Linked DNA regions of Homo sapiens: region 2 is linked to region 1. A link means that fine-mapping ties the variant in region 1 to the plasma level of a protein whose gene starts in the linked region. Region 1 holds a variant in brackets. A gene starts in the other region. All regions are shown on their forward strands.

Region 1 (4,000 bases):
TTTTGGTCTCTTTCCTGTAGGAACCCAGGAAATCACTATTCCTTAAAACCAAGGAGATTGACTAACACTGTACCTTTTTAAGAGGACTTGATATTGCTCTTCAATTGTAAAACCATTCAGTCAGCTTGTGAACAGGTATCTCTCTGGGGATACTATGGGAAAAGCCCTGCCCTCAGTGAGCATATAGTTTGCTGGAGGGGAGTCACACTCCATCGACAAACAATTAAGACTGCTTCAGGTCTTCCAAAGTGTTCTGAAAAGACAAAGACAGGCAGGAAAAAAGGGTGGTGAGTGGTTGCTTTTGGTAGGCTAGGGTGATAACTGAAAAGTTGCAGGTGAGGCTTCAGGGAAGGAAAGGATGATAATACATAGACCTGCAGGAAGAGTGTTTACAGCAGAAGGAGCAGCAAGTGCAACGGCCATGGGTCAGGAACAAGCTTCGGCATGTTCAGGAGAGGACAGAAGGCCAGAGTTGTGTGCATGGCATGTGAGTAAGAAAGAGAGTAGGAGAGAGGTCAAGGGGTAGGCAGTGGCCAGACCATGTAGGTAATGGTCCAGTTTGGAGTTTGCTTGTAGCCAGAAGCCCCTGATAATTTTATACCTGTGAGTGACATCCTCTGACATTTACACTTCAGAAAGATGGCTTTTAGCCCTGCGGAGGGTGGGGCTAGAGCAGGCAGGAAGACGAGCTAGGAGCCTATTGCTATAATGTGGGTGGGAGGTGAGGGTAGCTTGGAATGAGATTGAAATAGTGGAGATAGTGAAAATAGATTTGGGGTACATTTTGGAGGCAGAGCTGGTAGATACTGATGGATTAAATATGAGGGGTGGGAAGGAGTGAAGAGAACGTACACATGAGGGCTTAAGGGTCTTGCTGGAGCAGCCGGAGTGGGAGATGCTGTTTGCTGAGCTGCTTTGTGCGTCTGTCAGAAAGCAGCGGCTCTCTTTCGGGCCTGCTAAGCTGGGGATACATACTAAACACTGAAGTGGAGCTCATGAGTGGCACATGGATGTTTGGATCTGGACCTTGTTCAGTTGAGGGGTCAAGGATAGATACATGAATTTGAGAGCCTCCACTTACAGTTGGCATTTGCAGTCGTGGGACAGGGTACACTTGCTGAGGGAGAGAATATGGATAGAGAAGAGATTTGAGGACAGAGCCCAGGGGTGTCCCAACAAGGTGAGTTCTGGGAGAGAAGTCAGCTGGGGAATTGCTTCAGTGTCCTGAAGGCAGATCAATGAGAAGGAGCAGTTCTATAAATAGAAATCCCTGCAGAGATGTTAGAAAACCAGCATTACAGCATGCCAAGAGATAGAATAGTGATTAATAACTGCTTAAAAGTGTATGTTCTGCCACTGGAATGCTAGGAAAGCTACCCAAAAAGGCTGTTCCTAATTGAGGAATATGGTTCTTAAATGTTTACATTGCCTTATATTTGTGATAGGGATTATTGGCTTTGTGAGCAAAGCTCTTTGACATTTGTGGATGGAGTGTACTCATTATTGAGAGGAATTTTCTGAAATGAATGTCAGTTCCTTTTTTCCCCTAAGCTTTGCTTTGAATTACTATACAGTTTACTTAAGAAACCTGTGATCAGCGAGAGGAAAGAGAAGTGATTTCTGAAGCTTCTAATGGCCACTTCCTGCTGAGTCTTAGCATTCTATC[C/A]TGTCAAGTATGCTAATGGGAGAAGGAGCAACATCTCTGGATACAAAGGATCGCCAGGATGCTGATGTGAATAGTAGGGGTGAGCTAGCTCTGTCCTCATGCCCAGACCTTGTCCTGATCTGTAGCACACATTTGAGAGACAGGAGCTGTATTAATTGCCTATTGCTGCTGTAACAAATTATTACACTTAGTGGCTTAAAAGAACATGTTTATTTTATGGTTCTGGAGGTAAGAAATCTGAAACGGCTCTGTAGTAGGCTAACACCCTCCAGGTGTTAGGCTGTAACTCCTGAAACGTGGATGTAGCCTTATGTGGAATAAGGGTCTTTGCAGATGTGATTAAGCACCTTGAGATAGGGCAATTATCGTGGATTGTCAAGATGGGCCCTAAATGCCACCTCAAATGTTCTCCTCACAGAGATGCAGAGGAGGATTACTCAGAAGAGAAGGCAGTGTGACCACAGAAGTAGGAATTAGCATGCTGTGGCCACAAGCCAAAAAATACATGCAGCCACCAGAAGCTGGAAGAGGCAAGGAACCGACTGTCCCTAGAGCCTCTGGAGGGAGCACGGCCCTGTCCTGCCTACCCCTTCGCTTCTACCCAGTGATACCAATTTCAGACATCTGGAGTCTGGAACTGTGAGAGAAGAGTTTTCTGTTGTTTTAAGCCACTAAGTATAGGTAATTATTAATGACAATTTGTTATAGCAGCAATAGGGAACCAATACAGAGTCTCACTGGGCTAATCCAGTGTCAGCAGGACTGTGTTCCTTTCAGGAGGCTCTTAGAATCTGTTTTCTTGACTCTTCCAGCTTCTAGAGTCTGTCCACATTCCTTCACTCATGGCTTCTTATGTCTTCAAGCCAGTCTTTGACACTTTTTAGATAGTGATTCTTCTGCTTCCCTCTTCCGCATTTAAGGACGCTGTGATTGCATTAGACCCACCTTGATAATTATCTTAAGGTCAGCTGATTAGCTACCTTAACTCCATCTGCATCCTTAATTGCCCTTTGCCATGTAAGGTGTAACATACTCAGATTCTGGGGCTATGACAGAGACATCTTTAGGAGCTGTTATTTTGCCTTAAAAAGGAGGCAATTATTTAAGTATATAAGGTGAATAGTTAGGTCTTTCTCTCCAGGAAACCTAACTTGTCATTCAGCGGTTACCATGCATGGGTATCTTCTTCCAATTGCCTGAGCCAGCCAGACTTTCATGTTTGAGCATTCAGATTGGGCTTTATTTCTCAAGGCATGTGGCAAACCTCACAATGACACTGAAAGGTTAAAAAAAAAAAAAAGAAAAATACAGTTGCTTACCAGAGATACTGATCGTTTACTTCTGCTAGGATCAGAAGAGATTTTAAGAGCTTAGTGGCAAATCCTGACCTTGGAAAGCCCTGCCTTACCAGGGGTCTTGTGCAGAGGTGTTATTGAGATCAGACACCAGGTTGCAGTGATATGTATCATTTGTGCTCTTGCCATCTACCGCCCCCTGCCTGCCACCAAGCCAACCTCAGGAGGTCTTTGCCCAGAGGCTTGGCAAGATGACTTTCCACAACTCAGGGAGGTTTTAAGGAGAGGGATTAGCATTGACTCTGATACCTTGTTGGTTTGTGTGTCATAACTTAAAGGTCCATGCTTCTCAGCTGGCCAGTGGTCACACCTGATTGGAAGGTGAAAAGACTTTGCGTTCTACTTCCAAAAGTTTTCACATTTGTCACACTGTCCTAACCCTATCAGCTTTGTTGCTATCATTGTAGTGAGGCCTGCCTAGGGATGATAAGTGAAGGATCCCCAAGGACACATTAAGACAGCACATAGAATCAGAGTTTTCAGACTCTTGGCCGAACTTTTTTTTTTTTTAAGCAGACCAGTATTTTCCAAACTTTGGACTTAGTTTCCACCATATTCACGTTACCACCTATACTTGTTACTTAACATATTTTCTTCAGTTTATCCTGCATCAACTCATTTATTTTAATTTGGTCTCATTCTAATTGACAGCATATAGCAGCTTATGAATTTGATGTGCGTATGCATGTTGCAACAAATACTTAACTATTAGTATGTATGCTACGGTGTAAATGTACCACACTCAGAAAAAACCTTATTAGACCATCCTGACTGTTTAGGAAGCTTGGTGCCCAAGGGAAATAGTCTTTGACCATCAGCCAGAATTTGGTTAGTTTCAGCAGATAAGAGAGTAGCTGGTAAGCTACTTAGGAACATTTTAAGTAGAATATGTGAGAAATGAGGATAGGATATGCCTTTATTCCCAGCAGGCAAAAACATGCATTTATTTACTATAGTTGTTATAATATAAATAACATAG
Region 2 (4,520 bases), not on the chromosome of region 1:
TGCTGTCTGTGTGTGTCTCATCCAATTCTTTGTTTAAGACACCAAGAGCCTGGAACTGCATGGCACCATCCGGTAACACTTCTGCCCACTGAGATACTGCAAATATCCTTATGGGGAGAGAGTGGCTGGGCAAGGAGGAGGCGCCCAGGAGGCAGATTGGTCTGCAGGATGAGATACTAGCTGCAAATGCAGGGATTGGAGGTGAGGGCGGGGAGTGGCTTCGGACGCCCAAACCCAGCATCTTCCTCTCTCAATCGTTACAGCCAAATGATCTCTAGGTTATGGACAATTAGGGGACAGTGTGGGCTGAGCAGATCAATGCAGTTGTATGGAAGAAAACAGACTGGGATTTTCTATGTATACAACATCTTCAGGAAAACCTACGTGAAGTTAGAATTTTCAAGGCAGCATGTGCCGATGATAAAACTACATAGAACAGCAGGAAGACTATTATCATTAAAGTGAGGCTAGGGGCTCCTTCAGGAGGGAGCGGGGGCATGGCCAATAGGAAAGGGGAATGTAAGGGTGAATGAATTAATAAAATCTCTTTCTTCATTTCAAGGGACAGACTTGACAGTTCTTTTGTGTTCTAGTTCTTCAAGGGTGCTTATTTTGTGTGAATCACTGAGTTGGTTTTTAGGGGACACTTTTATGTACATGTCTTGTGTTTCTCCCCGCTCAAAAAAAACTGTTTCAAGAAAAGCTGGCCTGGATCTAAGGGGGCTGCAGCTTGCAGGATTTTTCCCACTTCCTCCCAGCCCAGTCACACAGTTTAAAATAATCTTCTGTTGAAGTCAGGTGCGTGTTTCTTCTCTCAGAAAATCGCGCCCATCACTGAGGGTGGACGCCCCGGGGCTGGTGTCTTTGCTCCACGTCTCCTGTTCACCTGAACCCCTAGGAGCAGTTCCTGCAGGAGCAAAGCCCCAGGGCCAGCAGACCCCTCACACTCTGCACTAACCAGGCCTCATGAGATAGCAGTGGTGAAGGGAAATGTCCTTGTGCTCAGAGAGCTGTGAGGATGGGAATAGTGTCTGCTCTTTTCATATTGATCCTTTCCCTTATGACTTTCCTGTCTACCAAGCCCCACAATACAACAATCACAGCCTCAGCTTCCCCGGCCTCCTGCAGGCTGGGCTCCCCTCCGTGTCCTTGGCGTGTATCAACAGGCGCAATCCTCACCTTCACAGCCCCATGTCCGTCTGCTCGGTCCTCCTGAGACTGAACCCCCGACCTAGGGGAGAGTGACCCCACCCTGCCTGTGCCCCCCACTGAAGCTCCTGTCATGGGGAGCTCAAACGTCAGGAGACTCAGTGTCTCCCCACCACACAGTGACTCCTTGGGGACAGTGTCCGGCTCTGCTGTGTTGACCTCATTGTGCAGAAAGGGGGTGCCCACCTCGTGGCTGCTGAGGGAGGGATGAGAGGCTGCCTGTTCACCCCACCTGCACCCCTGTCTCTCATGGCCCCGAGTCCCACTTCTGAGCTACGCAGACATCCACAGCCTGTGACTCAGGGGTCTGGGCAGATGGGAGTTATTTTCACCCTGCAGAAAATATCACCTAAAGGGAAAGGCATTGAGAGGGAGGCAGGAGGTGGGGTGGGCCCTGCATGGGGTGGGAATCTGGGTGAGTCTGTCTCCCGCTCTGGCCTCAGGGACCCAGGAGTGAATGTCGGGTGGTGGACGGTGGATCTCCCAGGGCTGACCCAGCCCTGACAGTGTCTGTGTGTGAAGTTCTTCTTCTAAGGAGGTCACTGTTTTGACCTCACCACCGACTTCCTGTAGGGCCTCTTCTAAGTCTTGAGCCCGCAGTTCCTGAGAGAAGAACCCTGAGGAACAGACGTTCCCTCGCGGCCCTGGCACCTCCAACCCCAGATATGCTGCTGCTGCTGCTGCTGCCCCTGCTCTGGGGGAGGGAGAGGGTGGAAGGACAGAAGAGTAACCGGAAGGATTACTCGCTGACGATGCAGAGTTCCGTGACCGTGCAAGAGGGCATGTGTGTCCATGTGCGCTGCTCCTTCTCCTACCCAGTGGACAGCCAGACTGACTCTGACCCAGTTCATGGCTACTGGTTCCGGGCAGGGAATGATATAAGCTGGAAGGCTCCAGTGGCCACAAACAACCCAGCTTGGGCAGTGCAGGAGGAAACTCGGGACCGATTCCACCTCCTTGGGGACCCACAGACCAAAAATTGCACCCTGAGCATCAGAGATGCCAGAATGAGTGATGCGGGGAGATACTTCTTTCGTATGGAGAAAGGAAATATAAAATGGAATTATAAATATGACCAGCTCTCTGTGAACGTGACAGGTAAGGCACGGGCTCCAAGAGAGGCCAAAGGCAAATGTGATGAGGGCTTTAGGGCACGGCTGAGACGGGACACATGTCCTGGGAGGGGGCCGGGGGTGATGGACTCAGGAGAGGAGCTGGACCAGAGCCTGAGCTTCCCCAGGACCGCACCTTGGATGCCCCTCCTGATCCTGCAGGCCCCTCCCCTCACCAGCCCTGACCCACAGGCCTGACATCCTCATCCTGCCTCTGACGCTGGCATTGTGGCATGTGGGGCCTTATGACTCCTTGTTTTGGGGCCTGTCCTAGGCATGGCCGGGGTTTAGCACCATCCCAGGCCTCTCCCCACCAGATGCCAGAAGCACCCACTCCACCCATGCAGTGAGACAATAACAATTATCTCCACACATTGTTAAACGTCCTGGGGGGTTAAGTCCTCCCCAGTTGAGAGCCTTAGGTCTACACAACCCCGTGACTCTCTCAGGCCAGGCCAGGGAGGAAGCACTTCCTGGCGCAAACCAAGGGCAGCAGAGGCACCTGAGCCTGGACAGGGAGACTCAGCACACGGCCCCTCCATCTCTCATGCCCTGAGGTCCTCGGAGATCCACATTTAGATGCTCAAAAGACAGGAGGGACCTCCACGATGGTCCAGAGGCCGGGAGGGCAGGACCTACGTGTCTGGTGCAGGCCCTGGTGCTCCAGGGAAGCCCGGAGGTAGGAGGTGGGACACGGTCTCTTCTCCTCCCTGGGTGGGTCTCTAGGGTCTCTGAGCTTCAGGGTTTCCTTCACTCTGTGCAGAGGGAACCAGTTCCTATAGCATGTGGGTTTGTAGTTTCTCTTTCGTGCTGGGTTGAGGTCTCCAGCTCCTCTCCAGCCCCTCTCCAGCCCCCTGTGGGTCCCACAGCCCTGCCCCTCCTCTCCCTCCCACTTCTCTGCTCACACAAGGAGCCCAGGAACCCTCTGTCTCAGAGATGCTGCTGCCTCTCTTGTGGGCAAATGAAGAGAGGGACAGTCGGGGCTGGGCTGAGCCTCATTTCCCCACAGCGTCCCAGGCCCCACTGTCAAGATACAGGCTGGAGGTGCTGGAGTTGGTGATGGTGCAGGAGGGCTAGTGCGTCTCTGTGCCCTGCAGTGTCCTTTAACCCTATTACAACTGAACTGACTCTAGCCCTGTCCATGGATGCTGGTTTAAGAAAGGGATCAATATACAATGGAATAATCCAGTGGCCACAAACATCCCAAATGGAAAAGTGCAGGAGACACGGGGCCGATTCCACCTCCTTGGGGACCTGAAGACCAACAACTGCTCCCTGAGCATCAGAGATGCCAGGAAGGGGGATTTGAGGAACTACTACTTCCAGGTGGAGAGAGGACAGATAAGATGGAATTACAAAACGAAGCAGCTCTCTGTGAATGTGACAGATAAGGCACAGGCTCCAGGAGACACCACAGGGAAAGGTCATGGGGGTGGCAGCGAAAGCCTGGGATGGGGCCCCTGCCCTGGGAGAGGGCTGAGGGTGAAGCGAGTTGGGCTCAGGGCAGAAGCTGAACCAGAGCCTGAGCTTCCCCCAGGGCTGTACCATGGATCCTCTGTCCTGATCCTGAGTCCCCCTCTCTTCACCAGCCTTGACCCACAGGCCCAACATCCTTATCCCCGGTACCCTGGAGTCTGGCTGCTTCCAGAATCTGACCTGCTCTGTGCCCTGGGCCTGTGAGCAGGGGACGCCCCCTATGATCTCCTGGATGGGGACCTCTGTGTCCCCCCTGCACCCCTCCACCACCCGCTCCTCAGTGCTCACCCTCATCCCACAGCCCCAGCACCACGGCACCAGCCTCACCTGTCAGGTGACCTTGCCTGGGGCCGGCGTGACCACGAACAGGACCATCCAACTCAATGTGTCCTGTGAGTGCTGAGCCAGGACGCCCTGGTCCCTGATGAGGGGGGGACGTCCCTGAGGGCAGAGGATGGGGTCAGGGCTCGACACTGGGTGCTGGGTCCCAGAATCTGGGCTGGTTGTGGGATCAGGAGGACGCTGGCTCCGCCTTCCCCATTTATGCAGCTCCTGGGGAGACAGGGCCAGTGTCCCCAGCCCTCACAGTGATGCAGGTCTCCATGTCTTTCTGTCCCAGACCCTCCTCAGAACTTGACTGTGACTGTCTTCCAAGGAGAAGGCACAGGTAGGATGGAGCCCCCTCCCTGGGGCTGGGGGAGCAGGGCCTTCAGCTCAGGGCAG

Which allele goes with the higher level. Positions count from the first base shown, and alleles are read on the strand shown. Strength reflects both the effect of a copy and how common the allele is.
With allele C in place of A in region 1, the plasma level of the protein whose gene starts at base 1,806 in region 2 is higher (weak association).

What was found. A credible set is the group of variants that fine-mapping cannot tell apart. PIP is the chance, under the fine-mapping model, that this variant and not a neighbour inherited with it causes the effect. The UK Biobank Pharma Proteomics Project read protein levels with antibody pairs (Olink). The fine-mapping took linkage between variants from a reference panel, not from the people measured, so its PIPs are less certain.
Region 2: SIGLEC7 starts here. The variant in region 1 is the best candidate, but not a certain one, in a credible set for the plasma level of the SIGLEC7 protein (UK Biobank, PIP 0.67).

Annotation. Positions count from the first base shown.
Region 1 is chr2:134,204,625-134,208,624 of GRCh38, forward strand. It overlaps a transcript of MGAT5 not described here. Among named protein-coding and RNA genes, the nearest start is that of MGAT5, 47 kb to the right of the region's middle. RefSeq lists a silencer at 1,994-2,288. The variant C/A (reference allele first, on the strand shown) is at 1,667.
Region 2 is chr19:51,140,496-51,145,015 of GRCh38, forward strand. It overlaps SIGLEC7 (sialic acid binding Ig like lectin 7), which reads left to right and starts at 1,806. Exons shown (of 7, transcript NM_014385.4): 1 at 1,806-2,307; 2 at 3,911-4,189; 3 at 4,417-4,464. The coding sequence starts at 1,875. It overlaps LOC124904749 (a long non-coding RNA gene), which reads right to left and starts at 15. Exons shown (of 3, transcript XR_007067310.1): 1 at 1-15.